2 linked regions of the Homo sapiens genome follow. Changing the gene in region 1 together with any one later gene gives a genetic interaction. Each region holds a gene or a part of one and is shown on either strand. Other genes may lie near its edges.

Region 1 (16,256 bases):
AGCTTTCTGTAGAGTTATTTCTGTTCAAATAAAACCAGACTCTCAAAATACAACATAAGCCTGAACCTACTTGATTTTTTTTTCTCCCTCTAGTTACCAAGGAATATCGTATCTCAGATGCATGGCCTACTATCACACTGGTCTTTAAAGAAAAAAAAAAATGCATGGCCACAGTTCCAGGCAGTTCCTGGTAGCTGGATTTAGTGGATTTATATATGACAGTACAGTACATCATCAGTTTCACCCACAGGGCAGAACTTGCCTCCATTCAGGCATCTCTTTACAACTGGCAGCAATGCAGCATTAAGGGTTTTTAGCCAGGACCTGCTGTTTGCAGTCCTGCCCCTTGTAGTGTTACTCTGGGTGTTGCACACTCCATGATTACTAGAAGACAAACACCTGAGGCATGCAATCTGCTTGGAGTGCATCTATTTACATGAAGCTGCTCACGGGAGCTGGTGATTCTTCCAGATATGGGTTTCGTAGGTTGGCAAAGAGTTATCACACCATCAGAGATTTTACCAATGGAAAGAGAGTAGCTGAAGATTATATTGCAATGTTATTGTGAAACATTTAACTTTCTTAAGTTTAAAGTGTACTATCTCCTGCAGCTCAATATAAACAACGATGTATTTCTTTGTAGCAGTATGTGGAGTCAGAATGGGTTTTCCAATCTGATTTAATCCCTGAGCAGCTATGTTAAAAGTTAACTTTTTAAAAAAGCCCAATAAAAAACTAAATACTGTATTAAAACTCTACCACAATGTTACAGGGATAAACTTATTTCTGTACAGAAACATTAAAGCTACTTAGAAGCTGTTTACATCCTTTGCCTCTCAGAAAAAAAATATACATTTCCGGAAACTGTTCAGGTACTTAAGCTGGACATAAATTACCCCAAGTTTTTTCTTTTTCTTTCTTTCTTTCTTTTTTTTTCTGAGACCGTCTCACACTGTCGGCCAGGCTGGAATGCAGTGGCGTGATCTTGGCTCACTACAAACTCTGCCTCCCAAGTTCAAGCAATTCTTGTGCCTCAGCCTCCCCGGTAGCTGGGATTACAGGCGTGTGCCACCATGCCCAGCTAAGTTTTCTATTTTTAGTAGAGACGGGGTTTTGCCATGTTGGCCAGGCTGGTCTTGAACTTCTCAAGCAATCCACCCACCTCAGCCTCCCATCCCAATGCTGGGATTACAGGCATGAGGTGATCCGCCCGCCTTGGCCTCCCAAAGTGCTGGGATTACAGGTGTGAGCCACTGCGCCCGGCCACCCCCCAATTTTTTTTTTTTTTTTTTTTTTTTTACCAGCACTATGAATGATTAAAAATACAATATTTTTCTTACTAAGTAGGACTAAACATTCTAATCCCCTACTGGAAAACAAAAAACAAAAAACAAAAACTGGAAAACTTTTCAGAAAGTCAGCAGTGGTAACAAGTCAGTAAGTGGAAGAACTGGTTCAAAGTTTAAGAATTCAGTAAGATAAGGTATATAGGAGCTGTCAGATCTTCTTTTGCCCACGTATAACCATTTCTGACAGACAGCCCTAAACACTAGCTGAGAGCTTGACTGCACAGGACCACGGCTAGTGTTGGAAATAAAGACTGAGCCGGACTTGACATACACAACTCCGGACAGATGGGACCCTGGAATGGGGCTGCTCCATCAGGCCACAGCTTCCAGAAAGAGAGCATCCATGATCTCTGAAGAGCCTCTTGGGCAGCTTGGCCCCTGGTTATAACTATGATTCATTCATTAAGAAATGACAAAACACCCCACAGATGTATTTGGACCAAGTAAGCACAATAAAAGAGCTAAATCACGGCTTCTTCTAGGGCAAAATATTATCTGGGGAAAGATTACTTGCTTCTGATAATTAAATAGCTAAGAGGAACCGTTAGTGCCTTTTCTCTGCTCAGAATATCAGAACAGGAACAGACTGTGGATATCCTCCAATTCCCTCTGACAATGAGGGTTAGAGAGAGGTGCCTAGCAGTTAGAAAGCAGCAAAGCCAGATTGTCCCAAGTCCCTACGAAGAAGGAAAAAATATCATAGAAAATTAATAAGATGCAAGAATAAGTGTTACAGCTCTAGCTCTTTTAGAATTTGTCCAGCAGGTCTTCTAGACTTCACTGAACTGCCCCCCACCCCCCCCGCCCACACACCAAAAAAGATACAAGAATGTAAGCCCAGATGTGGTGTGGTATCTGGCATAAGCCAATGTTCTCTGGGTTCTAGGTACCCCTCTCCCCTCCCCCACCCCCACCCCCTCTGACCAGGGGACTGCCCGAAAAGAAACAGCTGAAATGGTACACAGTCACTCCTCATGCCCGCATGTTCACTGGTGCCCAGTTAGAGAGAAAAATGGCAACTGTGTATGTGGGAGTCACCTACACACACAAAACACTGATAGGTCAGTTTCCCATGTCTACACGTGACAGGATTCAGAAGGTACAAATCAACCTTCACCCAGGAAGCTTACATGTCTCCTGAAAGCACTGACAGGGTCACGCACTGAGGACCAGGAGGCTCCTTTACTGGTCTCTGCTTGGAGACAGACACAGAGTGGTCCACCCTGAGACACAAGCGTTCAGTAGGGATCGCCATCCCAGGAGGTACGAGATAACAGCACCTCCCTCTGGAAACTTCTACAGAAGTCAGTTTTGTTTTCTATTTTAAAACTGCATTCAGAGAGACATTAAACAAGAACTAAGGGCAACATCCAAGCTCCGCAACCTCCTGTGGCCCTTCCAGAAAATCTCCCTCAGTCACAAGAACTTGGGATATTGCTGTACTTCACATCATATGGCAAGCAGTAACATTCAGCCTAACGGCTCCCAACTCACTGTACGTGTGTCGTGCGTGCTCCAGGCATAGTTCTGGGTACTTTCCATTCCTTTTCTCTAAACTTTATGAACCCAATTTTATAAGGATTATTATTATTACTCCCATTTGGCAGATGAGAAAACTGAGGCTCAGGTGTTAAATTAAGTCAAAGTCACCCAGTAAGAACCAAAAGCATAATTTTGAGGTTTCCAGGTACAAATGATATGTCCATGTCTATATGGTTCAGTCCCAGGAGTTGAGCAAAGATGCTTTCACGCTCCTGGAAGTCAGGCACCTTCAGCTGATTCCAAGGCTTCTCTAAGCGCCAACCTGGAAGCCTGCTGTAAGGACAACTGTAGTCCAAGCTCCCAGGGACCAGTGATTCTGGCGGCATCCTGGGGCGGCTCAGTTTCTGGCGGTTCTCAGCTTCCTCCTAAAGTACTCAGGGGCAGCCTCGTACAGCCACTGTGCATCTATGACGCAGAGGTCCCGCATGTAGCACTTGTTGGTGTAGAGCAGCTCAGTGTACACGACGCAGGCCGGCTTGCAGTGGAAGAGGACAGACGACGGGTGGATGGCCACTGGCTGGTGGGTGTCCGTGGTGGCATAGGTGCCATCTGGCTGAAGCTCGGCGGTGCTCATGAAGAGGCTGTGAGCCAGGCAGCGGCGGACACTCTCCACGTCTCCTCGGGATGATGCGATTGGCATTGACATCTGTTTCGGGAGAAAGCGAGGAATGGAGCCGACCCCACACGTAAACACTGGTCAGCACTACACAGCGTGTTGGGGCAACTGGACCCACTGGGGCAAAAGCAGCCCACATTGTGAGCCTAACGATGTGGATTCTGACATTCGGAGGTGGTCACCAAGGATCAGCAAGGTCAGGGGAAGAAGGCCCAGCTGGAGGAGCACGGACCAGAAACAGGGAAACTACCGCCTGTGAAGGTAGGGCTGGGAGGGAGGTGCTCACATTAGCCACCAGACCACAGGCAGGTTGGGTGACCCACCCCTCACCTAAATTCCATCAGGACGGCCCGGAAAGGAAAGGCCCTTCCCTCTCGCTTTGACCATCTCACCATCTCCTCACTCCGATTCACCCACCTGCTGCTGCCAAGCTAATCTACCTAAAGCACAACTCGAATCACTCTTCATCCACTCAAATACCTTCAACAATGTCTCTACTGCTCCTTGCAAAACAATGCAAACTTCCCGTGGTGAAGCCACGAAGGAGCCACCCTGAGCTGCTCGCCTGTCTTTCCTCTCACCGCTCTTTTTCTTTCTTTCTTTTTTTTTTTTTGAGGCTGAGTCTCCCTCTGTCACCCAGGCTGGAGTGCAATGGCGCAATCTCAGCTCATTGCAACCTCCACCTCCCAGGTTCAAGCTATTCTCCTGCCCTAGCCTCCCAAGTAGCTGGGATTACAGGCGCCTGCCACCACGCCTGGCTAATTTTTGTATTTTTAGTAGAAACGGGGTTTCACCATTTTGGTCAGGCTGGTCTTGAACTCCTGACCTCAAGTGATCTGCCCGCCTTGGCCTCCCAAAGTGCTGGGATTACAGGCGTGAGCCACCGCGCCCGGCCTCACCACTCTTCTTTAGACACTCCATGGTCCCCCATAGCTGGCTGCCTTCTCTTTCCTCGCCCCGTTTCATGATTCCTATCTGTGCCTTCACATTTGCTACTCTTAGTAGAAATGCTGCCTGTCTCATCAGAGGAAATGTCAGTCACCAGTCAATGTCCTTGTTCTACTGCTCTTGATGAGTGGGGCATGTAACCTACGCCCCTGGGCACAGATGAACAAACCAGTGGTACACACACGCTGGACCTAAGCTGGCCAGCTTTTCTCTTCCAGGCATCTTTTAGGTTTGAAACTGGAAAACTTGTCAATCTCTGCTGGGCTCTTGAGTGGAGGGGCCATGCAGAGAAATCACTTCCATGCGGAGGTAAAGGTGAGAAAAGGGAAGGAGGCACGCAGAGGGCACTCAAAGCAAGAGAAGCAGCAGGTCCAGAGAAAGTGGCGGGCCTGGCTCCTGCAGGCTTTTTCTGGTTCCTGTGACTCTATTTCCTGCCTATCGGTTCTCAGAGATACCTTTCCATCCTTGGAAGAATCTTTATTTTGTCCTTTATGATGGCTCTAGGGTTTCTGTTGTTGACAATCAGCTGATCTATGCCTGAAGAAGATACTTTTTTTTAAGAGACAGGGTCTCACTCTGTTGCCCAGGCTGGAGTGCAGTGGCACAATCCCAGCTCGCTGGCAACCTCTGCCTCCTGGGTTCAAGCGATTTTTGTGCCTCAGCCTCCTGAGTAGCTGGGGTTATAGGCATGCACCACCACGCTCAGCTTAGTTTTGTATTTTTAGCAGAGATGGGGTTTCACCATGTTGGTCAGGCTGATTTCGAACTCTTGGCCTCAAGCAATCCACCTGCTTGGGCCTCCCAAAGTGCTGGGACTAGAGGCATAAGCCAGCCACCACACCTGGCCTGGAAGATACTCTTTTATCTCCTTATCTGTCAAGATCTAGCTCAGTTGTCACCACCTCCAAGAAGCCCCAGAGGCTAACTGGTGGTCTCTCCTTCCAGACTATCAGCTTTACCACTCACTGGCTGAGTGATTTGGGGCAAATTATTTAACCTGATTAGGCTTAGTTTCATCATTTGTAAAATGGGAATAACAAAAGAATCAATCTTATAGGTTGAAATGAGGATTTTATCCTTTGGGTTAAGGTCTGAGTTGAAAAAGAAAAAAAAAGAAATGAGGAGTTTAAATAAGGCAGCCACATAAAAAGTACTCAGAACAGTGCTGAACAAACACTTCATGAATGATAGTGATTATTTTAATTTGATGGCCTCCTGGCATGAGTGTATGTACGTCAGGTCACCATCTAGATTATTACTTAGTTACTGAGTAGGCATGTCTGTAAAGTCTCAGGACCTTACCAGTGCCTGACATATAATGAGAGGTATCCCTGGCCACTACAGGGTCCTAAATTCACAACTAATAGAGAAGCACCGTTTCTACTGTCAATGATAAATTGAGAAAACTTATGAAGCCAAGAGACAGACTGGCAGGAAACTGTTCAAATACAAAAGCAGTTTAAAAAAATGTGTGAAAGACAGAATACAATAGGCTACTATGAGAAGAAACAGCTCTAGTGCCAACCGTAGGCCGTTGGCATCAGACACAGGCCTGGGTACAGGCTGTGACTGTCTCCCAGCAGCGTCCGCACTGAGGGGGCACAAGACATTCACCACAGAGTACTCAGGACAGCAGCAAACACACGGACACTGTCTCAGTGATCAACAGCAAAAGAACACTTCCGCTACCCTCTATCTCTGACATAAAATGTGGAGTGTCATGCGAGCATTAAATATACCATGACAGCTCTTTAAAACACCATGTACTCTAAGAGGGAATAAAAAGCTAATATAAAACTTTGTGGGCCGGGCACAGTGGCTCACACCTGGAACCCCAGCACTTTGGGAGGCCAAGGCCAGTGGATCGCCTGAGGTCAGGAGTTCGAGACCAGCCTGGCCAACATAGTGAAACCCCGTCTCTACTAAAAATACAAAAAATTAGGCCGGGCGTGGTGGCTCACGCCTGTAATCCCAGCACTTTGGGAGGCCAAAACCATCCTGGCTAACATGGTGAAACCTCGTCTCTACTAAAAATACAAAATATTAGCCGGGTGTGGTGGGTCATGCCTGTAGTCCCAGCTACTCGGGAGGCTGAGGCAGGAGAATTGCTTGAACACGGGAGGCAGAGGTTGTGGTGAGCCAAGATCGCGCCACTGCACTCCAGCCTGGGCAACAAGAGCAAAACTCCGTCTCAAAAAAAAAGAAAGGAAAAAAAACACTTTGCGGTGGACACTTTGGCAATATCTAACAAAATCCAAATTCCCCCATCTAGAAATTCATTCTGTGTGCACCACAGCACATACGGAGGATGGTCACTACAACAGAATCTAAATGACCATTATTAGAGGCTTAAATAAACTGCACTGAATACAATGAAATGCTATGAAATCACTAAAATGAATGAGCTAGACACATGCAGCACTGAAAGCCCAGCCACAGGAAGGATTTGAGAAATACGCATGTGAGGCCAGGCACAGTGGCTCACACCTGGAATCCCAGCACTTCGGGAGGCCGAGGCGGGCAAATCACCTGAGGTCAGGAGTTCGAGACCAGTCTGGCCAACGTGGTGAAACCCCGTCTCTACTAAAAATACAAAAATTAGCCAGGCGTGGTGACGCACGCCTGTAATCCCAGCTACTCGGGAGGCTGAGGCAGGAGAATCACCTGAACTCGGGAGGCAGAGGTTGCAGTGAGCGGAGGCTGTGGTGAGCCAAGATGGTACCACTGCACTCCAGCCTGGGTGACAGAGCAAGACTCTGTCTCAAATAATAAACAAGAAAGAAAGAAAGAAAGAAATATGCCATGTGGAAGAAAGGAAGTTGTGGAACATGTACCTCATATGCACGTATCCGTTATGTGTGTGCTCACACACAGGCACAGAGACATGCACAAAAACATACATACACAGAAACAAATTCTAGAAGGAGCTACCCCAAACTGTTAACAGTAGTTATCTCTGGAGGGGCAGGATTATGGGAGACTTTTAAACTTTCTACATTATAAATCACTATTTTCTGCATTGTGTCAAATACTATACACAACTTTGGTAATCTAAAAGGAAATAATGCAGATATTCATACTTAAAAAAAATCTTATGAAGAATTCTAACACTGGAAAATGCTTATAAAGATTATAAAACCAAATATAAATTATACATATAATTTACTATGTAAAAAAATACAATAAAAACTAGGCTATTAGGAAATAGGCTAAACTACTGAATTGTGGAATTGTGGGTAACTTCCTTTTTTCTTATTTGTGAAATTTGCTACAATGAGAAATCCTTTTATAATCACTAGCAATAAGCAACTTCAAAATTTCTACCTTGAACAAAGTGACAGCTTTGTCACCCACAGAACACTAGGACCAGACGATACCTTTAAGCAGATGTCCCTCAGCTGTGCTCTGACTTCTGCTACCAGCGTCATATTCTTGCTGTTGACAAAATTCTCTTTGCACCAATCCTGAATAGGAGAAAGAGTGATATCACAATCCACTCATTCACCATTTATATGTTCACAGAGACGGGGTCTTGCTCTGTTCCCTAGGCTGGAGTGCAGTGATACAATCATAGCTCACTGCAAACCAATCCTCCCACCTCAGCCTCCCAGATAGCTTGAACTATCTGCACATGCCACCATGCCCAGCTAACAATCCTCTCATCTCTATAGAGAAAATATAACAACATTTTTAGAACACAGTTGAATTCAGAGAAAAAACTTCAGGTGCCAAAAAGAAACGTAGGAAAATATCTTTATATCAAAAAACATGAACTATAAGAAAAGTGTTAATAATTTAAACTAAAGAAAAACTTGAAGTTTCCCAGATTGGGATATTTGTCTCATCATACCCAATAAATGATTAGAATCTCTAGAATTGATTTTAAAAGTTCTACAAGTCATTAAGAAAAAGACCAACGACCCAGTAGAAAAATGGACAAAGGATATGAACAGACACAGAAAACAAAACAGAAATGCCCAGTCAATTTATGTAAGACTTCTTTCTTTTTTCTTTTTTTGGAGATAGATAGAGTCTCGCTCTGTCACCTAGGCTGGAGTGCAGTGGCACGATCTCGGCTCACTGCAACCTCTGCCTCCCAGGTTCAAATGATTCTCATGCCTCAGCCTCCCGAGTAGCTGGGATTACAGGTATGCACAACCACGCCCGGCTAATTCTTGTATTTTTAGTAGAGACGGGGTTTTGCCATGTTGGCCAGGCTGGTCTGGAAGTCCTGGGCTCAAGTGATCCACCTGCCCTGGCTTCCCAAAGTGCTGGGATTACAAGCTTGAGACACTGTGCCTGGCCCTGGGCAAGTTTTTCAACTGCACGAAGCTTCGTTTCCATGACTACATGTTTCATGAATATAAAAAATAATAATTATAGTGCTCATTTCTTAGGATTACTTTACTGAATAAATGAGATCTTACATTAAGAAGTGCTTAGCATGGGGCTTGGCACAGAGTAAGTACTCATTCATTGGTACGCACTATCATTATTAGACATATTACTTAATCAAGTTCCAATTAAGTTTTGATGGGTTGGGAGTCACTTAAGTCTTGTTGACTTAAACACATTCGGAACAGAGACCAGAATGACACTGCTTCGGTACTGAAGCATTTCTGAAATGCTGTCTGGCTTTCTTTTTGTGATTCTTTAGATAATTTAGCCAAAAAGGGAAAGCGTACTTTTTGCACGGCTTCAGTAGAAAAAGGGAAGCACATAGCAGAGACAAGCAGCTATCGCTGGAGAACAGGTGCAAGACAAGGCTCACCTTATTTCCGCCTAGGTTTTTGAAGGTCCGATAGATATTGAGCAGGGTCATGTGATCCCCCTCGCTGGATATGAACTTCTTGCGGACCCCTTGCACTTCCTCTCGCCGGGAAGGAGGGTTGTGGAGGACGCTGTCCACAGACAGCAGGGAGACAATGGTCAGGATCTCCTCTGTACAGTGGAATTTGGGGGACATGAGGATGGTCTGCAAAGCAAAATTTAAAATTGTGTAAACCCAGCTTTCTCCTAGCTTTAGAATGCACTATTTCTGTACATTGCTTTTGCAGTTTCCCTTCTAAGGAGTTAAAGGGCAGGTATTTCTAAAACCATGGCGATGTACATTAGTGTTATTTCACTCTTTAATATTCAATAAAACAGGTGACTGCCTTCCCTACAGAGTTCCAAATTTCTTGTGGGTAGGGGCTCTTAACTTCATCTCTTTGAATCCCACACTGAACATGAATCAGGGCTATTTGCAAACTAGGGGTTGGTAATTATGTAAGAGAAAAAGTGAGATTAATCTAGAAGCACTGGGTAGATGGTACTACTTTGGGACGGTTAACTGTAATGTACAGAAAGAGGACTGAGGAGAGGGTATCATTTACTTTGGCAAATTTGGGTTCTAAAGGAAATGCTGCCATCTTTCTTCCCATTGGAGTCAGGGTAAGCTGGTCATCCTTATGTTCAAGAGCACCTAACAGGTCCAGTTGGGCAATGGCCGCCTGAATGTGATCTAAAGAAACAGAGACATAAAAAGGAGCCAAAAGTCCAAAAAAATGAAGTTGCAGCTAGTTCAGTATTTCTGGGAGCTTCTGATAATTCTACATCAAACAACAGCAAAAATCATAACCGCCACTGCCCCCTTGACACACTTGTCAAAGAACGACATCACTGTCTTTAGTTCAATTCCCTTTTCTTTTTTGAGACAGAGTCTTGCTCTGTTGCCCACACTGAAGTGCAATGGCGTGATCTCGGCTCATTGCAGCCTCTGCCTCCTGGGTTCCAGCGATTCTCCTGCCTCAGCCTCCCCTATAGCTGGGACCACAGGCGCCCACCACCGCGCCCAGCTAATTTTTGTATTTTTAGTGAGACGGGGTTTCACCATGTTAGCCAGGCTGGTCTCAAACTCTTGACCTCAGGTGATCTGCCCACCTTGACCTCCCAAAGTGCTAGGATTACAGGTGTGAGCCACCATGCCCAGCCTCAATTTTCTTTTTAAATGACCTGTAATTTGGCAATATGTATGTAGATTTTGAATATACACATTAAAAGTGTAACATCTGACCCAGCAATGTTACACTTACGAATTTCACCTGCAGATACACATCGCACAGAGACCATATCGCCAGAACCAAACACATAACAGTGGAAATAGCAGTTGTCTCAGGGGCCAGCTGGGGAGGCTGGGAGACAAGGGGATGAGAAGGACATTATTACTATTTACTATTTTATATATTTTAAACTTTGAACCATGTAAATATAGTACCTATTAAAGAATAAAAAAGCATTTCTAAGGATGTAGTAAATATATACATCCCAATAAGGAGTGATCTGTAAAATGTATTAAATGAAAAAAAGCAGTGTGTTTCTCATTGCTTTTTTAAAGCAATATTTATCAACTGAAGGATGGATAAATGCATTTTGGTTTATTCACAGAATGGAATAGCACTTAGTGTGAAAAAGCATCAGCACAAATATACTATACGGAACAAGCTGAATGAAAACCGCTTACTCAAGAATAACTAACATAAACTTACAAACAACAGGTGGTTTAGGGATACATACGCATATAGTAAAACAGTGAAGAAAAGCAAGGCAATTACAAACAAAATATGGAAGAGTGGGTACCCCAAAAGAGTGGAAGGAGGCGAGGGCAAGTGGGTGGGGGGGACTCCTGGGGGCTTCAATTGGGTACACAGGTGTTAGATTTTAACCATTCCTTACACCTTATGTATCTTCTTCATTTGTATGTAAGAATTTAGCAATGAAAGAAAAAAAATCAAGCACAGAACAATACTCAATGTGTGTTGCTATTTGTGTTTTAAAACATACTACAGGCTGGGCGTGGTGGCTCACGCCTGTAATCCCAGCACTTTGGGAGACCGAGGTGGGCGGACCACCTAGGTCAGGAGTTCAAGACCAGCCTGGTCAACATAGTGAAACTCCATCTATACTAAAAAATACAAAAATTAGCCGGGCATGGTGGTGCACACCTGTAGTCCTAGCTACTCGGGAGGCTGAGGCAGGAGAATCACCTGAACCCGGCAGGTGGAGGTTGCAGTGAGCTGGGATCGCACCACTGCACTCCAGCCTGGGCAACAGAGTGAGACCCTGTCTCAAAACAAAAACAAAAACAAAAACATACTACAGCAGGGGCTTGGTGGCTCACACCTGTAGTCCCAGCTACTTGGGAAGCTGATGTGGGAGAATCACCTGAGCCCGGGAGGTTGAGGCTGCAGTGTGCTGAGAATGTGCCACTGCACTCCAGCCTGGACAACCAGAGTGAGACCCTGTCTCAAAAATAAATAAATAAATACATAAATAAAATCAAACACACTACATATACTCATATATGCATACATTTGCTCTAGAAGTCTACTAGAAAATGGTTCCAGTGGTTGTTCTAGGGGAAGGAAACTGTGAACCTGAGGATCAGGGCAGGACCCTTGTATACCCATCAACTGGTGACTTTGTGTTTTCTTTCCTTCTTTTTTAAACCAATTGCATTTCTTAAGAAAAGGGGGGGCAATAAAAAGAAAAGGAAAATGGTGCGTTGATGAGAGGCCAGGTGCCAAAGCCAATATCATAAATATTTCCAATTATTTTCTTCTTCTGTAGAGAAATTACTAATGAACAGGAGAGATGGATCAAATTCCAGTTAAAGGCAAAGAAATGTGATCTTTGCAGTCCCTGTGCTGATAAAAGTACAATTTCATTACATTTCTGTAGTATCCCAAGGACTCGCATGATGACCTTCACTGGTTCCAGAGGTCAAGGAACTTTATTGATGGTGCTGATAGTACAGAATCTATCGTTTCATAGCTAGGAACACTGGCGCATGCCTGTGGTCCCAGCTACTTGGGAGGCTGAGGCGGGGGGATCGCTGGAGCCCAGGAGTTGGAGGCTGTGATGGAGCCTGTGAATAGTCACTGCACCTCCACCTGGGCCACACAGTGAGACCCTGTCTCTTTAAAAGTCAATCAATGTATCTATCTATCATTTCATGATTTTCAGATGCTTCTCTAATAACTAATGTTGTCATCCACAAAATTAAATAAACAAAAGGAGATGACCAATATACTTTATTTTTTTGGAAGTGTCCATTTGTTGTTGTTTGTCTCCTCACCCACCTTCTGCAAAACTGTGGATTTCACTTACCTGGAGATGGCTTCGACATGAAGTCAAAGGTGAGCACATTTGGGACTTTCATTGCTAGAAGCTGAAGCATCACACTGGCCAGGTTACACCTGTGAAGAGCATGAGACCAGGGTCATGACCTGATCCCTCTGCCATTGAGTCAGAACCCCTCATGGTGGAGTGTGAGTAAAAACTGCAGCTCTGGGCAAGCAGGAGAGACATGGTGACAAACAGCAGCAGTGCAGGAGCAACTGGTGCCTACCTCTGGATCTCTGGCACGGTCATCTTATCAAACTTCTCAAACTCGTCCTCCGTGTAGAGCCGGTAGCAGATGCCACTGTCCTCTCTGCCAGCCCTCCCTGTGCGCTGCCAAGCCTGCGTCTTCGATACCCGCTGCACTGCTAACACCTCAAGACCACTGTCTGGATGGAGAGTGAGCCCCATTAGTGCTTCATCACATGAACAAACTCTTTCTACAGTGTCGATAAAAAGAAGCACACCAGTGGTTCTTTCAGCAACACGGGGGTCCAGAAAGCCTCAAGGCTAGCACAATGGACAGCACAAAACCAGACTGCTCCGCAGCGGTTTGGCCCTAGTGAAACAAGGCTTTGCCATAAGCCCACTGTGAAATCTGTTACAAAAACATCAGAAAAACCTCACGCATGCAGCAAGGGGCGAGAAGAGTAGTTTCCGAGGTCTTGCCTTAGATGGTAGGATGGCCAACCCCTCCAGTTTGCTTGGGACAGAGGGTTTCCTGGGATGTCGGATTTTGGGTGCTAAAACTGGGAGTTTCAGCAAACTAGGATGGGGGTCATACTATCAATCAATGACTACGAAATTAAATGCCTCAAATCACTTGTGTGCTTTATCCTCCCTCCCAGTTCTGCTGTAAGACAGAAATAATGTGATGTCTGTTTTCTAGCAGTAAATGAGGTTCATTTTCTTGATAAAGGTGTATCATTAGCCTGGCACTGGAGACCCAAGCTCTTTCACCTACGTCATCACAAAAAGATACACCTGTGGAAGCCAGGACCCTCAAATGTTTACTAGAGCATTTCAGTTCAATAATTGGGAGCAATAATTTCAGTGGTCTCAAATCCTCTGTGGAATAAAGCAAAGTATAAAACAGACATGAGTCAAGATGACCTTAAGTTAGCTTCTCACTGCACCTTCTTAGGAGAAGCCAGTGCTCCTTCCATGCCTCACCTCAGCCAGGAGATCTGGTTCCTTCCTGAGAAACCTGGGAGCTCAAACCAGCCATATATATATAGTTTCTGATGACACCCTTTGATTGACACCCAGCTGTCCCTGGCCTTAGAGCCGACTTCTGATGGGGTACCAGACCCTCTGCCCAGGTCCCTGACCCTGTGTGCCCAAGTTTGCTCAACCTGGGCTCTTCTTTCCTGCCTCTACTTCCTGTCTCACATACCCGCCTCAGGACTCCTTCGCGGACCTGGAGTGTAGGTGATCTCACTCATGGCGCCTGCCACCTGAATTTGTTAGTTACAAACATGAAACACTCAGGGGAAAACTGTGGGACTACAGTTTCAGTGGCTGCTCACTAGACACAGGAGAGACATTCATGAACTACAAATTCTCACCAGGGTTATACTTCTTTGCTTTAACCATGCCCGTGTCAACTACATATTTTATTCCTGTAATGGTTATGGAGGTTTCAGCGATGTTGGTTGAAATGATCACTTTGCGATAGCCCTAAAAGGAGGAAGAAAACCAAAAAGCCGCATTGACACACGGATGATTCAGAAGTCTTCAAACATATTCTCACCATTAACTTCCACAATTCACTCTTGACCAACAGAAGATGACTCCATTATTAATGGCAGTCATTAATATTAATGGTTGGTCATTAAACCGGGCAGGGGAAGGGGACGCTGCAGTCTTAAAGGTCAATTTGAGGCAATGAGATGCAGTGGAACAAGCACAGGAATCAGAAGCAAGTAGATGTGGGTTGGAATCGTGGCCCTGCCAGTGACTTACTATGCGCCCCCTTGAGCAATTGTTACTTCCCTTCTTGGGGCCTCAGGATCCCCATGGGATCATAACCTGCCTTGCCGGTTCCCACGAGGATGACAGACAGTGGATATAAATGCTAGCACAGTGCCTGGCACGGCAAAGGCACACAAGAAATGGCACTATGGACAAATGCAATTTATGCTGGTCCTTAGAAGTCACTCGTTTACCTTGCAGCTTTGGTTTATACTCTCCCTCATCCCAACAACTGTCTCCCTGCTCCTGTCACAGGAGCGCTGCGTGTGTCACCGCGCATTTTATTCCTGCACCTCCTCAGTGCGCTGATCTGGCACCTGGGTATCCCATCCCATACACCTTATCTGGAGCCTGGTAACAGGTACAGACCTCGCTGGTGGATCCGTCTGGGTGCCCAGAATAGGGCTGGACAGAAGAGGTGGTGCACTCACCTTTGGGGCCCCTTGGAAGACTCGGAGCTGCTGTGCATAGGGCAGGGAGGCGTACAGAGGAAGGACCAGCATCGCAGGGCAGCCGTCTGGGAGGTGCTTTGCAATGTCTCGGCACGTCTTGCTCATGGCTTCGATCTCCTCCTGCCCAGTGAGGAACACCAGGATGTCCTGTGAAGAAGGGGCTTCCTGTAAAAAAAGTAGAGTGGGTTTACTAGGCATTGATAGAATTGCAGCTTGCACAGAAAAAGACAATGGTGATTGATGATGTTTCCCAGAGTTATTTCTCTTAACTATAGAAATGTAAATGAGCCTAAAAGTTGATGTCTAGCTTGGAGAGAACCCTTACCAGCAGTGTGTAAATGGTAACAGGCTGGGTGTGATGGCTCACGCCTGTAAACCCAGCACTTTGGGAGGCTGAGGCGGGAGGATCGTTTGCAGCCAGGAGTTTGTGACCAGCCTGGGCAACGCAGCAAGATCCCATCTCTACAAAACACTTTTTTTTAAATTGGTCAGGGGTGGTGACACATGCCTATAGTTCCAGCTGCTTGCCACTCCACTCCAGCCTGGGCGACAGAACGAGAACCTGACTCAAAAACACAAAAAACAAAACTGTAATATATAGGAGTTAGCCAGCTATGTTTATAGGCCAAGTGATGAAATTTTGAAGGGAAATCATCAGATTGATTTTTCTAACAAGAACAATACCATGAAAAGCATAATCAGGCAAGCAAATAAAATCTGCATGAAGCTTCCTTTCTTTTATAAGCATCTTGAAAAATGAAGTTGACAAAACAGAAGGAAACTTGGGGAAATCCTAATCTATGGAAATGAACAGGCGCAGCCATGCTGGAGAAGGAGCCTTTAATGAATGACGCCGTCGAAAGCGCTTTCACACGCCCCAAAACACACACTATACTCGGACAACTGCTTGAGATACTGAGGTTAATGGGGTTCCTCACTTTCAAATGGAACAACACCCAAGTGTGAATGACATACCTAATGCCCTGATTTTTCTTTGATTTCTGATCAGATACATTAATTTGTTTGATGTAAAGTGCTTAACACTTTGGGAGGCCGAGGCGGCCAGATCACCTGAGGTCAGGAGTTCGAGACCAGCTTGACCAACATGGTGAAACCCTGTCTCTACTAAAAATACAAAAAATTAGCCAGGCGTGGTGGCGCACGCCTGTAATCCCAGCTACTCAGGAGGCTGAGGCAGGAGAATCACTTGAACAT
Region 2 (16,518 bases), on another chromosome or scaffold:
GCAGTAGGTCTGGAAGCCGCAGGATTGGTTGATGCTAGTAAGAAATGCCCAGGCAGGGACAGAGAGAGTCAGAAGATAACAGTGATGGTGAGTCCAGCTCTGGAAGGGGGCTGCCGGCCCCACCCCTAGACTTTTTGCCACACCCTGCTAGGGATGTGAGGGATGTGTGGCCCAGTCCCACTGGTATCAGGGTGGCAATCCCAGGCCCAGGGAGTACAGAGGGCCTACAGGTATGCTCTGATTCTGTAGTACAGGCTGGAATTACAGGAAGCCTGGTCATGGACTGCAGCAAGAATGAAATATCCAGGACATATGAAGGTGGAGAGCAGATCCCAGGCCAGGGAGGCCACAGTGGGGAGGCCATGGTTTCCAAGAGACACAACCCCATGGCAATAAGTCAGCTGTCATGTGGACCCACTTAAGTCCTGAAGCCAGAGAGGTAGACCAGGGACATAGTGAGAGCCCACAATCGGTTGCAATAATAATGCCTGAGGCTGGAGGCATAACCTGGAACTCAAATAGGAGAAAACCTTTCTCATTCAGGGGCTAAATGGAGAGATGAGAGGAGCTGGAGTTGTGATGTTTTCATCTTATAAACATGAAACTGAAGTGAGGTCCTTAAGTGGACATGGCTGCATGTTCATTAGGGACGCTGAGCACCCAGACTCTATGGTTTGCTGAACTGCAGTGTGCAAATGGGAGCAAATCGAGACACATTTGCAGCAAAGATTTGAAGCACTCAAGTTATTAAGGGACGATTCGGGGATCAGAGAAATGACTCCACAGTCTTCCTGCTCTTCCTTGCTTCCTTCCTTCAGCAAGTATTAGGTGTTAAGAGGGATCCCAAGAACAGTAAGGCAGAGACCCTATCTTGTAGGAGTCTGCAGTGTAGGGAGGCAAACAGAGCACAGGATGGAAAGATGGACCGCATGGGTCTGACTCCCAGACTGTGGGAGATCAGAGAGAGGGAAGCCCATGGAAGGTGGTACCGAGTGTTGGGAGCTCAGAGAATATAGGCACGTGACTGAATTGGGAGTTCAAGAGGAAGAGAAGGGGTATGGCATTCTAAATAATCAGCAGTGTTGGGAATAAGCTGGCAGGCTGGGAGGGCAGTGGTGAGCCTAGGTTAGTCAGAGTCTCAGTGTAGGCCACGGGAGATCTGCAGAGAGAAACGAGTCAAACCGAGGGGGCCTCCAATGGGGGACAAGGGGCAGTGGTTCAGATTTGACAAAGTCTAGGCTACAGTATGTCCAGCTTTTTCATCAAAAACCGCTAAGATTCACACTGAGCAACAGCCCTGAATAAAGAAAAAAACCCTAAGACCAGTCAAAAACAACATCTACTAGAAAACAGAAGCATGACCTGAAACAGCTGCCACTAGTATGAAATTGTTTTGAGGTCACCAGCTTTATGTTAAAAATGCAAACAAATTTTTCGTTCTATTCCATACTTTAGTCATGGATTATAAAATATTTTAATATAAAAATAAAGCTTTTTTTAATATAAAACCCCCCAATCTTCAAGTGATATCACCACACCAGGAAGATGGGCCCTGTTTAGACTGTGTGTCATGCCTCCTCCACTCCCGTACTGCCCTCCTCCCCCGCCCACCCCACTATGAGAAGCAATGCACCAAGCAGTAGGGGTCACTGGAGGCTTGTATCCAGGGGTGTGACAAAAAACAGCATCTTTGTGACCTTTATTTGACCATGGTGAGCATAAAGGGTTGGGCAGGGAAGAAATAGGAAAGGAGAAACTATTAACTGAAAGGTGTAAAAAAGGCCCCGGGGCAGGACAATGGGAAAGGAGAGATAGAGTTTTGAAAGTTATTCCTCTCTGTCTTCCCCCAACTCTTACCCCACTGATGATCTTTTCCTTTTCCTCCCCATCATTCTTTTCATGAGTCCCTGGCAGTGGCCATGGACACCCTAGACACCCCAAAGCTCAGGACCTAATGGATCCTTCAGGTTAGTCTAGGAGGCATCATTTAGTGTGAATGGAGAAGAAAAGATTCTACTGGCCCCATCCTTCAGTCACCACAAGTCAGCTCTAGCCTGCTGCGTTTGCCCTCCCGTCCTGAACCTGAGTCCTGGGCCAATGTTCCCATCCCTGAGCAGGAGGCAGGCAGAGATATTTGGCCTGGTAGACAGGCTGAGCATTTGGGGAGCTCCCCAGAGTTCTCAGACAGCGGCAGGGGTAGTGGCCAGCATCTGAAGTCCACGATAGGGTGGCCCGTCTGTCATTAAGATCCCTCCTATGGCTGCATCAGGGATGAGATTAGGCTGCTCTAAGTCTCAGCCCCACTTTTCCAAACAAAGATTCTGCAGCTTGGGCATAATAATAGCAGTGCTTCTTATTTATATGATGCTCCTCCATTTGCAGAGGGCCTTCACAGACATAATTTCATTTAACTCGCACAACTGCCCTGCATGGCTGGAGTGCCTATCCCCATTACACCTCTAAGAAGGCAGGATGCAAGGTTACACAGTTTGAAGAGATTTGAAGAGATTCAAACCATCTAGTTCTGCTCTTTCCATGCCTCACTCCCTCCACCCTGTAGCCATTTGTGACTCTGACATGTGCTGATCCTTCCAAACCCTGAAGGATTCCATTTCTACTTCCTGCCTCTATCATCTCTCTGGAAATGAGCTCTGGAAGTATGCTGCCCACTGTGTGCCAAAGAACATTTTTCTATTCATCCTGAGCTTGCATCACTCCAGTTCTAAAAGGCCCCCTCATCTCCAGTTTCAAGATTTGGGGAGCAAGCAATTCTTCTGCATATCTAGGTCTTTTATTATGCTGTAGATTTCCATCCTGTCTCACCTTCCAGAGGACTAAACTTTGAAATTTGCCCTCACCAGCAACCCCTGGCTCCCCATTCTGCCAATCATTCTCTGACCCTACTCTAGGCCCATGACATTCTTCCTAAGAGCCAGTGACCAGGCATGCGTTCAGTTACAAGGCTTTATGCAAGGGTGGGAAAAGGTTCTGTCTTTTGTTTCCAATCACCTTCATTATGATACCACCTCTTTGGCCTTTTTGGCAAAAGCCAACTTTGAGCTAAAGTCTTCAGGGAACCATCTGTAATGCTTTCCCTGTTCCTTTCCTGACACAGAGTCCTTCATTTCACCTATAATTTCAGTGATTTTATGGGAGCACAGCAATGGGAGCACAAGCCCCTGAAAAGTGTATCAGAATGTGATGGGGATAATTGTGGTGTGTCTTTATATTGATCAAAATAGGGCAAATGAAAAACAAAAGTTGAGAATCCTAGCCAGTAATAAGCAAACTTTAGAACTGAGGAATGGACATGGGAGTATGGGGAATACGTATTGTATGTCACTCACAGGTGAAGGGTAAGAAAGGTTGAAACCACTGTTTAGATTACTCATTGCTAAATACAATGCCTTGCACTTGTCCTTGTGAAAACTCAGTCCCCAGCTGGGCTATCTTGCTCACTTATATGGACTCGTTCTCCCTGTTCTGTCCTCTTCAGCATAATTGAGCTGTGGTTAGAATTGGGGTCAGGGTGGATGGTCACTGTATGGGCCCAGCAGAGTCAGGGCTGTATCCCAGCTGCAGGGAAAGTAAACCCGGCTGTTAGGTAGGGCCAAGATATCCTTCCCAACCAGACTGAGAGGGCCAGATAGCCCCCTGTTGGACTCCAGAGTCTGGATTCCATGAGCCTCCTTCCCACCTCCGCTCAGCCACCAGGGTGGTGTTGGGACTGGTAGGGCTGAGGAAGAAAAAGGGAAACAGGACCACAGGATTTGCTTTGCTAATGGGGCTGTAGTTTTCTCTTCTGGCCTGGGCTCCTGCCCACTGTAGGGAAGGAGCCATTGGTCGCCTGATACTCCAGCAAGGAGTCTGGGGGGTGTCTGGTTAATTGTATTGGAATTAGGGGGCAACTGAGGCTGCCAGGGGCTTGTACCCAGCTCCTTCCTGTTTTCCCATTGCCTTTTGTCACCTATTCCTTCCTTTCCTGGTCTTGATTCCCACTAGCAGGCTCCTCATTGGCCTTCTGTCCTCAAATTTGGATTCTGGAAGTACAGAGTGATGCTCTGATCTATTCTGAATTGAAGGGGGCATGTGTCCCAGCCCACCTCACCCCAAGGCCAGGTTGTAGCCTTTACTCTCGCTCCCTGCTCACAGCTTCGCAGCCCGAAGGAGCTGAAACAAGTTTGCAAAGTGTGAGCTGGGATTTGAGGTGACCCACCGCAGCCGACCCCATCGCACACGCAGCAGCTGGGCAGGCGCTGCTGGGTAGACGGACATGCCACCCAGCCAGGGACATTCTGTCCGCCACTGCCAGACACAACTCCCGCTCCGGAGAGACCCACTTCGCTACCCGGACATTCTGTCCGCTCCGAGCCCCATGCACCGCGGACATTCTGTCCGATTCTGAGGCGGCCTCAAGTCAGGACCCTTCTGGGCCCAGACACCCCAAGCCAGATCCACTATACCCGCCGCCTGGTCACTCTGATCCGCACAGCGGCCATCTGACTCAGTCGCGGCCGGGCTCTCACAACACAGCTCCTATTCCAACTGCGGAGCAGCTGGGAAGAGAAGCGTGTGCGACCAGGCGCACCCCGGCTCCCAGCCCCAGGAGTCTGAGCCTAGGCCGAGGGGCATCGGGCGCCGTCAACTGCCCCCACACTGGGGGCCGCCCCGCCAGCTCCCCCGCTGGCCAGGGCCTCTGTAACCCCTTTCGCTCCCTGGCCGCCTGCCCCGTGCCCTGGGATTCCAGGGCGCTTTCTGGTAATGGTTTCCAGACTCCCTACTCCCTGCCTCGCGAAGCCCCTATCCTGGTTTCAAGTCTCCGGCTTCGTTCCGGATCCTCTGAGTCTCCCCCTTCCCTATCCCCTGGTTCTTACCCTGAGTTTCCCTTTTCCCAAGTCCTGGCCCCAGGTCTGCAGTCCGCCCTCCCATTCTCGACCTGTTCCCAAGGCACCGGAGTTCAGCTGCCCCAGGTCTCGTTTTAGGGATTCCAAGGTCCAGCAATAGCTCCTCGGCCCCATGAGCCCCTGTCCTTAGAATGGTCAAACACTCACAGTGCGTCCTGCAACAGGCAGACTCCCAGTAGCGGCGGCTGCGGCGGCGATCTAGAGGGCAGGCAGGGGCCAGGGGCCGGGCACCCGGCCGGAGTGGGGGCCGCCCCCCTGCTCCCGGGCCGCCTCTCCGCTCGGGCGCTCCTGGACTCTCGGAGGGAGTGAGCCTCACCGCGTACTGCCACCCCCAGCCGGCGCCCATTCACTTTATGGCAGACCAGGGCGCCCCCAGCCCGCCGCGGCGAGCCGCGCGCGTCAGGCCCCGCCCCTTTCCAGCTGCCCTGCTGGGGCTCCGCCCTTTCCAGCTGTGGATCTCCAGGCCCCGCCTTTGAGGGAGGGGTCTGGCCGGCGAGACGCCAAGAACCCCGCCCTCTGGCCAATCAGAAGCGCTCTTCAGCAACTCGGCCGCGCCCCTCCCCACGTGGCAGAGACCGCGCTCCGGCTAGGACGCTTAGGCAGAGCCAAGTGGGCGAGAGTAGAGTGGTCCCGGTAGCCACGGGTAAAAGGGATCGGCTGGCAGCGAAGTGGGTTGGGCCGCTACCCCGAGGAAAGTGGATCGGCGCCAGGTGGGAAGGCGCACGGGGCCGCCGGGTCTCAGCGCTCAGACTTCTCTGCCACTCAAGTTTCGCCGATTTTCTCCACTTGTCGCTGTCCGTCTCTCCTCCCTTTTGTCTCTGTTCCAATCCTCCCACGTCTCGCCTTTCTTTCCTCTTCTTTCTCCTCAGCCGCTTCGCTCCTGCTGTTTACCATTCTCCTTCCTCTGCCACTTTAAAAGACTCATTTCTCTTTCTCTCTGCTCCTCTTTCCTCATATCTTTCCTCTTCTTCATTTCCCCCTTCTTCTCCAAGGAAGGTGACTTCGTGGAGACAGCAGGGTTTGGAATGATACAAACCAAAGTAGTATTCCAACGCTGCCACGAACTGCACCATCACTGAGTGAACTTGGACGAGTAACTATCATCTCCCTCCCCGCGCAAAACAATTAAGAGGAGGTTCCTGCTGGATCTCAGGGCTTGGGCTGGGCACTCCAAAGGCATTGCCTTTCAGTCTGTACCCTTGTCTTGCTTAGGCTGTGCTCTCCCTCCTTCAGCAGGGCTGGTTTCCCGCTGGTGGTACCAGGTTAAGTCCTGTGGGCAAGGTGTGGCCTTGGTGCCTGCTGGTTAGGAATTTGCAAGGGACAGGACAGATGACCAAGGAACATCCTGGCAGACTGTGACTTCGGCCCTCTCTGACTTAGGCCTCAATTTCCAGGAAACAGGCTCCTTCTCTTCTCCCAGTTAGGCTATGTTGCTTGGGTGCTCCGAAGAGCCTAAGCCCAGGCCAAACACTGTGGCTCATGCCTGTAATCCCAGCACTTTGGGAGGCCGAGGCGGGCGGATCACAAGGTCAGGAGATTGAGACCACCCTGGCTAACACGGTGAAACCCCATCTCTACTAAAAAATACAAAAAATTAGCCGGGCTTGGTGGCGGGTGCCTGTAGTCTCAGCTACTGGGGAGGCTGAGGAAGAAGAATGGCGTGAACCCAGGAGGCAGAGCTTGCAGTGAGCTGAGATCGCGCCACTGCACTCCAGACTGGGCGACAGAGCAAGACTCTGTCTCAAAAAAAAAAAAAAAAAAGAGCCTAAGCCCAGTCACACAATATGCCCCTAAGGCAAATCTGAGCAGTCATGTCTTGACTGTTCAGTGACTCCCATTGCCCTTAGGATAAAGGTCAAGCTCCCTAGCCTGGCATACAAGACCTTCAGGACCTGACCTTGTCTTCATCTCCAATTTCCTAGTAGTGTCCTGCACACCTCTGGCCCTTCCTGTGAAAGTAACCCATCTTTATATTGTCAATTCCTACTCCTCCAATGTTCCACTCAAGTCTTATTTTCTCTGGGAAGCCTTTTCTGAACTCTCAGTTTAGCCCCTTGCTCTCATGACCCTCAGTGTATACCTTCTATTACACCACCCACCATATTGAAGGGATCAGCTTATGTGTTGTCTGCTATGATAATAAAATTTAGGAGGGTAAGGACCATGTCTGTTATTCCCAGGCATAATGTAGAATCTCAATAAATGTCACACTGAAATCTATGAGGAAGATGTTCTGCCTGGTAAGATGATGATTAGTGGTTAGGAGGGACTAGGGAATTGTCATCTCTCTCCTCCCCATCTCTATTGCACAATCACATGCTTTTAGAATGATGAATTTCTGGAGGTATGTAGAAGTAGATATTGGCGAGCAGAAATTTTTGGCCCACTTAGAGGATTTTCCAATCGGCTTTCCAGGACCTCTCAATCTGAGACAGGCCCAGGACACCAACTCTCAGTTTTCAAATGAAGAGGAAAATGGCTTTGAGGTAATGTGGAAAGAGGTGCTATGATGGTATATCCTCTTTCCCTGACTCTCTTTGGGTGATAGAGGCTAGATCCTCAGCTGGACCCACCGACCAGAAGCCCAATGTGCAGGTGTAGGAAGTTACTGAGGGGTTCTTCACGTCTGATATCTGATGGGTGCTTTACACTAGAGCATCGTGGCCAGGTGTGGTGGCTCACACCTGTAATCTCAACACTTTGGGAGGCTGAGGCGGGTGGATCACCTGAGGTCAGGAGTTCGAGACCAGCCTGTCCAACATGGTGAAACCCCATCTCTACTAAAAATACAAAAATTAGCCTGGTGTGGTGGCAGATGCCTGTAATCCCAGCTACTTGGGAGGCTGAGGCAGGAGAATCACTTGAACCCAGGAGGTGGAGGTTGCAGTGAGCCAAGATCACAGCACTGCACTCCATCCTGGATGACAAAGCAAGACTCTCTCAAAACAAACAAACAAACAAAAGACAAAAAAACAAAACAAAACAAAAAAATAGCGCATCGTAGCACACGGATGGTCTTTGGATGTCTGGTTTTGAGACTACTTTCCTATGTGGTTAGTTATAGAGCTTCCCTGGACTTGGGTCGTCCATAATTGGGAGGATGTATGGAAAGAATTAGGTATTTTTTTTTCACTGCCTCCCAGCAGCTTCTCCAGGTCTGCAGGGACACTGGGGCTCTAGTGTCCCAAATAGGCTGGGAATTTCATGATTCAGTCTCCTAGGAGAAAACCCATCCTCTTGTCCTCTTCTCACGCATTCTCACTTCCAGGTAATACAGGTAATTCTAAATAGCTTAGTAACCTCTATCATCTCTTGCAAGGGGAGGAGGCAGCTGGGGGCAAGACAGTGAAAACAGGTGGGCATCCAACCCTCAGGCCCCTTAGCGTTTCTAAGGCAAACAAGAAAGACTTCTGTTTCCTATCACTGATGAGGTGGGCTAAGCTGCGTATTTAGCCTGGTGGATAAGGCCCGTCAAAGGCTTGGTATGAAAGGCAGACCGGGAGTCAAAGCCCGATATACTAAGGCATAAGAGGTGACAAAAGGCGATGAAAAGAGTTGGCCTGGGGGTGAGGAGACCCAGGGGTTCGTCTCTCTGCTCTGCTATTTACTAATTATGTGAACATGGGCCCAGCCTTCCACCCTGGGGCTGTTTCCTATAATGTAAAATGAAGAGACTTAAATTAGATATCCAGGGCTTCTGCTACGTCCCATTTTCTCTATTTCTGGATGATGGGAGTGGGGCAGAGGACGCTGAAACAGAGTTGGGACGTGACAGACATAACTGTGAGAAGCCACGACAGGGAAGGTGGACAAGAGGGCGAGGAGAGCAGGGTGTGGAATAGATCGCTGGACTTGTTTTTAGAATGAAGGGAGCCCAGAGCTGCCTCGAAAAGGAGTGATTCCTCAAGGGGCATGGTCTTGGCCCAGGTAACTTTGATAATACGTGGACAGGGGAGTAGGGATGCCCGCTCAAGTTCTCAAAGCGGACCCCGCCCCTTTCCAGCCAATTGTAGCCTTTTTCCCCATAATGCCCAGCAGCCACTGCCAAACCGCGCACTGCAACCGAACTCTACCTAACTCCACCTCTCTAGCCGCCCAGCCCAGTTCCTCATTTTTTATTGGTTTTTTAAACTGTCACTCAGAGAGTACTCGTATCCGTTGGTTGTCCCCTAACATACCCTTTCTTTCCCTTGTAATCGCGCTTCTTTAGGCACTACCCGCCTCCTGAAGCCAATTTCCTTTATTCGATTGGATAGTCGGAATGCTACTTTTCACGGTGCAAAGCTATGATTGGCTGCGCGCGGCAGGGCTCGCGCAGTTACCAGGCAGCGGGCTAGACTGAGGCTAGTTACCACGTCAGTGAGCTGACAGGGAAGGTACCCGGCTCTACTGCCCGTCCCGGACGACTCATCCTGGCGGACTGTGCAGTCCCACCCTGACTTCGGCCTCAATTTCCAGGAAACAGGCTCCTTCTCTTCTCCCATCTGCTACCAGAGCCGGGAGAGCTGCTCGGAGACGCCTCCGGGGTGCGGGCTGGACATGAGCAGCGGCTGCCGGTCCTGGGACTAGGCCCCGCCATTTTGGATCCGCTGACAGGTCAGCGAAGTCTCTTCCTAGAGTTCCGGTGTCGTGAAGGCCGCCCTGACATCGCAATAGGGAATTAGTGGGAAGGGCCCTTAAATTGGGCGAGCCAAGGTGGGCTAAGGACGCAGCGGACAGGAATAAGACGAGGGAAGGGTTGTTGTGGGAGGGAACAGGGAGGTATGCAGGGGCAAAGGTCATGCCTCTGCCGCAGGAGGGGCGATTTCTGCTCTCATTACTGATCCTTTGCAGGTGCCCAAATCTTCTGTTTTCCCAGGCTTGACCTAGTATTTAGCTTCTCCTTTCCAGCGCTTTCTGCATCCTGAAGAGCCCAGTACTCAAAAGCTGAAAGCAAACCTAAGGAGCATTGTGTCTACTTTTATGGGTTTTCAGACTTTAGATGTGAAAGTCTCTCTAGATTCTGTACAGCGTCTACTTCTTTGTGATTGCCTCACTAATACAAAGGAACTGCTTCATTAATAATGATGAACTAGTGCACCCTAGAATCAGGTTGTCAGCAGAGGGACGTGTGGAAGGCTTGAGGTTATAGCAGCGCAGGGAACTGGGCTATGAGAAGGCTTCCCTCTTACAGGACAGCTCAGCTGCCAGTCTGGGTCTGTATGTAAACACTATACTTATCTTCTGGGCCTGTTTGTTCCTTTATACAATCTTTCACAGGCATTCTTTTGTAGTGTATGTTTTTGTTGACATTTTTCTCTCAGATCTTCACTAAGGAGATGAGGCTTAATCATAAGGAAACCACTCTATTATGACATATTTGACTGACAGCAGAGAGAGATATTTGAATACTGGCAAAGTTTGGTATTGTCGGCCTATTATGTTTAGTGGGCAAAAAGAGTCATGAGAGATTTTCAGCCAATTGTAGGGTCAGAGCCCCAGAGTGAATGATGGAACATAACCCTAGAGAGTAGTTTATGGCACTGTGATGACCTTTGATAAACTGCTGTGTTGTAAAGCTATAAAAGTCCACCAAGGGTAACGAATGCTTTTAGAAATAAGGAATAGTGTAGATGGTGTTTTTTAATGCACAATGTGGAAACTTGTGCATTAATTCAGGTATAAAAGGCACTCTAGGCCCTGTGGAGGATACAAATGGAAAGGTCTGCTTTGGGACTGCTCAGTTAATGCACTTCTTAAAAGTAGTAGCATGTATGTGCAGTGGCCTAGCTAGAGCATGTAGTAGGTTAAGAGCAGGATCAACCTAATACCTTTTGGTATGTAGTGGGCACTCAATAAACGTTATCTCTATCTGGGATTAGTTTCAGTATGTGATCAGGACTTGTGGCCTGCTTTTGGCCCTGGCAGTCAGGAACACTTTGCACTTTTGCATGATGAGGTAGTAACAAGGAGGATCAAAACCTCATAGTGTCAGAAGAGAAAACTATTTAGGATCTTGGAATGACTAACTCAATTTTTCCTACCTTTGTCCTTATGAAATTGAAATTTCATAATTTCCCTTTTCCCTTCCTACCTTCGTCCTTATGAAATTGAAATTTTTGTGTGTGTTGGGAGAAGGGGGATGGCATTATTTATGCTTCACCTGTGTTGATTTAGATGGAAATGGTACAGGAAACTATTTGCATTTTAACTTGCTGATCTAAGTTGTAGAATTCCTCCCCTCTCCCCGCCCCCAAGAAAGTAGTTGAACGCAGCAAATGAAATGACATACCTCAGGAGGTACCCAGGTTTGATGATCCTGCCTTGCTCACTTGGGCCATTGCCCTGTTGAGTTGATATGCTTTGCATAACAGGCAATCTAGTCTCTGGGTAGGCAGTGTGATCAATCCAGGATCCAGTCATCCTCAGTTGAGCCTAAGGGTGACTATAGAGGCATCAAAACGTTTTCTCTTTCTCTCTCTTTCTTTTTTTTAATCCTAAATGTCATTTCTAGATAGGAATAATTTTCTAGATAGGAATAATTCCCACTCCTACCCACAAATCAGAAAATTCATCCTTCAAATACAAGTCCCAAGCTTGTATTTGAGCTTCTTTTTAATGGTGTTTGTAGACAGTATGTTCCAGTCTTGACAGTGATGCTCATTGGCACAGTGGGAACTCAGGCTATAGACATATCTCCTCAGTAGCTGGGCACCAATCCCAGTTTCAGCTCAGAGTTCTCAAAGTTACACTACTATTTTATTTCCCTCTTTTCCAGAAGTCAGGATGACTGCCACTTTCACATAATAACCTCATTGATAGGGTACTTAGACTGGCTGCTGTGGGCAGCTAAAGAGGAAGAAGACACAGCTCTTGCTTTTGAGGAGACTCTATTTATAGAGTACTCACTGCAAGGATCACCCTAATCTTTGTATGACACTTCTCATTGATTGATCACACACTATATCCCTGTGGCTCTGTGTGACTGATTAGAATGATTCTGTTGTTGGGTTAATGGTGGGATTGAATTTAAGGGTGTATGTTTTTGTTGACATTTTATCCTCAGGCTAGAAGAGCTATGTAAATATAATGAGCTGCTGTTTAGCTGTTACTCTTTTTTTTTTTTAATATTTCAGTATGTTCAACTGCAGTTGTTTAACTAAATGAAAATATAATAAAGCAGTGTGCTGATTTGGAACCCCAATAATAATAGAAGTGATCATAGAAGTGATTATTTGTTCTAGTAGTAGTGGAAATTACGATAGATGCAATAGTAGTGTAAATGATCATGGAAGTATGATGGCAAAGTAATGGTTTGCCAATCATATAAACCAGGGGTTACGAGCTCATGTGCCTAAATGCCAGGCAGGTAATGTAAATGAGTTAATTGAGTCCCATGGGAATGTATTAGGATTAGTGGGGACTGTTGTGTACTGGACAACCCATGCCTTTATTTTTTTTTTGTCTTTAATTTTAATTTCTTTTTATTGAGACAGGGTCTTGCTCTGTCACCCCGGCTGGAGTGCAGAGGAACGATCACAGCTCACTGCAGCCTTGACCTCTGGGCTCAAGTGATCTTCCTACCTCAGCCTCCCAAGTAGCGGGGAACACAGATGTGCGCCATCATGCCCAGCTAATTTTTTAATATTTTGTAGAGACAAGGTCTCACTGTATTGCTCAGGCTGGTTTCGAACTCCTAGACTCAAGCAGTCCTCCCACTTTTGCCTCCCAAAGTGCTGGGATTTTAGGAATGAACCACCATGCTCAACCCATTCCTTTATTTAGAAGAGCCAACTGCTCCTTTTTCAGCAGATTGTTACTGTTTTAGAGTGCAGGCACAGAATGACCACTCTTTCTATTTTTCAGGAGAAACTGGAAATTTAGATCATTGTGTTTTCTAATTGTTGGAAACTAGTTAAAAGTATTTTTAAGCCTTTTTCAGGCCAAAGAAAATATGTCTGTGGACTGGATTCTGCCCAATGGTTACTGGATGATGACCCTCAATAAACAAAATGGGCAGGCCTTATGAGACTTAATCACTGCAGTTCTCTATACATAATCACATAGACTTTTTTTCTTTGTCCTACTCTGCCAGCTGTCACCTTTGTACCTTGGGTGCCCTGAGTGGCTAAAAGATGGAGTGAGATAGAGAAGGTTTGTTTTATTTTTCATCTCCAAGCTGGCAGAAGGGACAGCTTTGGACATATTAGTAGCTTACCTTGTAAACGGTTTTTGAGATACTCTCAGAATCTCCACAGGGGGAGGAGATGGCATGCTAGAGCTGAGGTACCCTGGTCACCCGATTATCAGGTCTGGGAGGATTTTCCAGTGATGCATTGTCAGGGCACCAGCTTTTTTCCCAGTTTAACCTTCTTTTACTTCCACCCTTTAAGTAAATTTCTTGAGCTCAGTAAGTTGTTTCCTAGTTTAGTAACTTTGGTTATTCTCAATAAAGCACAGAACTATGATGTGTTCCTAGGCCAGCTCTGGAAATGTTAAAAGCTCTGCATCTTTAGTGTTTCTCTGGCTTTTTTTTTTTTTTTCTCTGATGGAGTCTTGCTCTGTTGCCCAGGCTGGAGTGCAGTGGTGTGATCTTGGCTCACTGCAACCTCCGCCTCCTGGGTTCAAGCAATTCTCCTGCCTTAGCCTCCCAAGTAGCTGGGACTACAGGTGCACGCCACCACACCCAGCTAATTTTTGTATTTTTAATAGAGATGTGGTTTCACCATATTGGCCAGGCTGGTCTTGAACTCTTGACTTCGTGATCCGCCCACCTCGGCCTCCCAAAGTGCTGGGATTATAGGTGTGAGCCAATGCGCCCAGCCTTCTCTGGCTTTTAAAGGTATTGAGTGAACATAAACCTTAGAAGGGCCTATTGCTGGTCCTTTAGCTCCCTACTACCATCTACCTTTTCAGAAAGTCCATCAGTTTTTCTTGGTTTGCCCAGCTCTGTATTAGACACAAAGGCATCATGAAAAAGAAAAACAAAATTGCGCTTTTGCCTTTGGAGAATTTATTTGCTAGTTGGATAAGAATAATTTTTTTTTGAGACAGAGTCTCTCTCTGCCACCCAAGCTGGAATGCAGTGGTGTGAGATCTCGGCTCACTGCAACCTTTGCCTCTCAGGCTGAAGTGATCCTCCCATCTCAGCCTCCTGAGTAGCTGGGACTATAGGTGCGTGCCACCACGCCTGCCTGATTTTTGTGTTTTTTGTAGACACAGGATTTTACTATGTTGCCCAGAGTCCAGTGGTGTCATCATAGCCCATTGCAGCCTTGATTTTTTTTGGCTCAACTGATCCTCCTACCTTAGGCTCCCTAGTGGCTGGAACTACAGGCATGTATCACTATGTCCCACTAATTTTTTTTTTTTTTTTTTTAATTTATGTTGCCTAGGCTGGTCTCTGACTCCTGAGCTCAACCATTCCTCCTGCTTTGGCCTCCTAAAGTGCTGGGATTAAAGATGAGAGCTACTGCACCTGGCCAAGGAAATGTTTAAAAGTGATTAAGAGGCCGGGCGTGGTAGCTCATGCCTGTAATGCCAGCACTTTGGGAAGTCAAGGGAGGCAGATCACCTGAGGTCAGGAGTTAAAGGCCAGCCTGGCCAACATGGTGAAACGCTGTCTCTACTAAAAATATAAAAATTAGCTAGGCGTGGTTGTGGGCGCCTGTAATCCCAGCTACTCGGGAGGCTGAGGCAGGAGAATCACTTGAACCCTGGAGGTGGAGGTTGCAGTGAGCCGAGATTGCGCCACTGCACTCCAGCCTAGACGACAAGAGCGAAACTCTGTCTCAAAACAAACAACCAAACAAACACAAAACCAAACCCCATAAAAGTGATTAAGAAAAAAAAAAAAACCACTTAAACACTAGTGTACTAAAAACAGCTATTTAGAGCCAAAGAAAATAAGGCATATATGAAGAATTGACAGTTACATTAAAAATTATATATTTCACAAAAATGTGAATGTGCAAATAACACTTAAGGAGATGTCAGGAAGATAGACGTGAAAAAAGAAGCATTATGATATGGCTGGTAGGTAAATGTGGGTTCTTTTTACCTGTATGGAAGGTTTGTAACTTCTGGTAGAGAAGCAAATATATATTATCAAAAAAAGGTTTGCCAGTGTGGCTCAGAGTTATTGTCTTCTATGAAGTCATTTTTCTCATGAGGTGGATGTGTGCTGTACCACTCTTGAAGAGTCAGTCTTGATGTTATTTCATTTGTTCATCTAGTATTTATTGATCATTTTTCTTACTATGTGTCAGGCTTTGGAGATAAAAGGGTAAATAAATCATGGTCTTTCCCCCTGAGATAGAGCCTGATAGTCCCATGGTGGTGATACACTAAATAAATAATTATAAATTAGTATAAGATGTGTTTATTTTTATTTTCATTTATTTATTTGAGGCAGAGTCTCACTCTGTCACCCAGGCTGGAGTACAGTGGCACGATCATACCGCAAGGCAACCTGGAACTCCTGGGCTCAAGTGATCCTCCTGCCTTAGCCTCCCAAGTAGCTGGGACAACAGGTGTGCGCCACCACACCTGGCCAATTTTTCTTTATGTTTTGTAGAGACAGGGTCTCGCCATGTTGCCTAAGCTGGTCTTGAACTTCTAGGCTCAACTGATGCTCCCTCCTTGGCCTCCCAAAGTGCTGGGATCACAGACATCAGCCACTGTCCCCAGCCAAGATATGTTTAGAGATAACTACAAAGTGCTGTGGGTGGCCGGGCATGGTAGTTCATGCCTATAATCCCAGCACTTTGAGAGGCCGAGGCAGGCAGATCACTTGAGGTCAGGAGTTTGAGACCAGGAGTTTGAGACCAGCCTGGCCAACATGGTGAAACCCCAACTCTACTAAAAATACTCTGCTAAAAAAGTGGAAAAAAGGGCTGGGCGCAGTGGCTCACACCTGTAATCCCAGCACTTTGGGAGGCCGAGGTGGGCAGATCACCTGAGGCCGGGAGTTTGAGACCAGCCTGACCAACACGGAGAAACCTCATCTCTACTAAAAATACAAAATTGGCCCGGCATGGTGGCGCATGAATGTAATCCCAGCTGCTGGGAGGTTGAGGCAGGAGAATCGCTTAAACCTGGGAGGCAGAGGTTACGGTGAGCCGAGATTGTGCCATTGCACTCCAGCCTGGGCAACAAGGGGGAAACGCTGTCTCAAAAAAAAAAAAAAAGTGGAAAAATAAATAAATAAATAAATAAGTGGTTTTAAGATTGTTCTTAGAACCACTGTGATATTCTGACTCCCTCATTGACTTTTGGATGGAATGAGTAAGGGTTTATCAGGTGGACAAGAGTGAGAAAAAACATTCAGAATAGAAAGGGAGCTTCATATGCAAAGGCAAAGAGGCAGCAAAGACCATGACTTTAAAAAGTAGGAATGATGTGGCGTGGTGGCCCACACCTATAATCCCAGCATTTTGGGAGGCCAAGGCAGGCAGATTGCTTTGAGCTCTGGAGTTTGAGACCAGCCTGGGCAACATGGCAAAATGTTGTCTCTACAAAAAATACAAAAAAATTAGCCAGGCATGGTGACTCATGCCTGTAGTTCCAGCTACTTGGGAGGCTGAGGTGGGAGGATCGCTTGAGCCTGGGAAGCAGATATTGCAGTGAGTCAAGA

Evidence for each region.
Region 2: changes in DHX33 (region 1) and GBF1 together harm fitness more than expected from each alone (negative genetic interaction), as found in Homo sapiens cells (one study listed by BioGRID).

The regions. Positions count from the first base shown.
Region 1 is NC_000017.11:5,440,977-5,457,232, forward strand, and holds part of DHX33 (ATP-dependent RNA helicase DHX33), read right to left. Parts: intron 15,207-16,256; coding exon 15,021-15,206; intron 14,296-15,020; coding exon 14,184-14,295; intron 13,005-14,183; coding exon 12,845-13,004; intron 12,693-12,844; coding exon 12,604-12,692; intron 9,959-12,603; coding exon 9,831-9,958; intron 9,431-9,830; coding exon 9,227-9,430; intron 7,920-9,226; coding exon 7,833-7,919; intron 3,538-7,832; coding exon 3,229-3,537; 3' UTR 1-3,228. UniProt on the Homo sapiens protein: Implicated in nucleolar organization, ribosome biogenesis, protein synthesis and cytoplasmic dsRNA sensing. Stimulates RNA polymerase I transcription of the 47S precursor rRNA.
Region 2 is NC_000010.11:102,236,282-102,252,799, forward strand, and holds the start of GBF1 (Golgi-specific brefeldin A-resistance guanine nucleotide exchange factor 1), read left to right. Parts: upstream 1-9,250; 5' UTR 9,251-9,500; exon of another isoform or gene 9,501-9,599; intron 9,600-16,518. UniProt on the Homo sapiens protein: Guanine-nucleotide exchange factor (GEF) for members of the Arf family of small GTPases involved in trafficking in the early secretory pathway; its GEF activity initiates the coating of nascent vesicles via the localized generation of activated ARFs through replacement of GDP with GTP.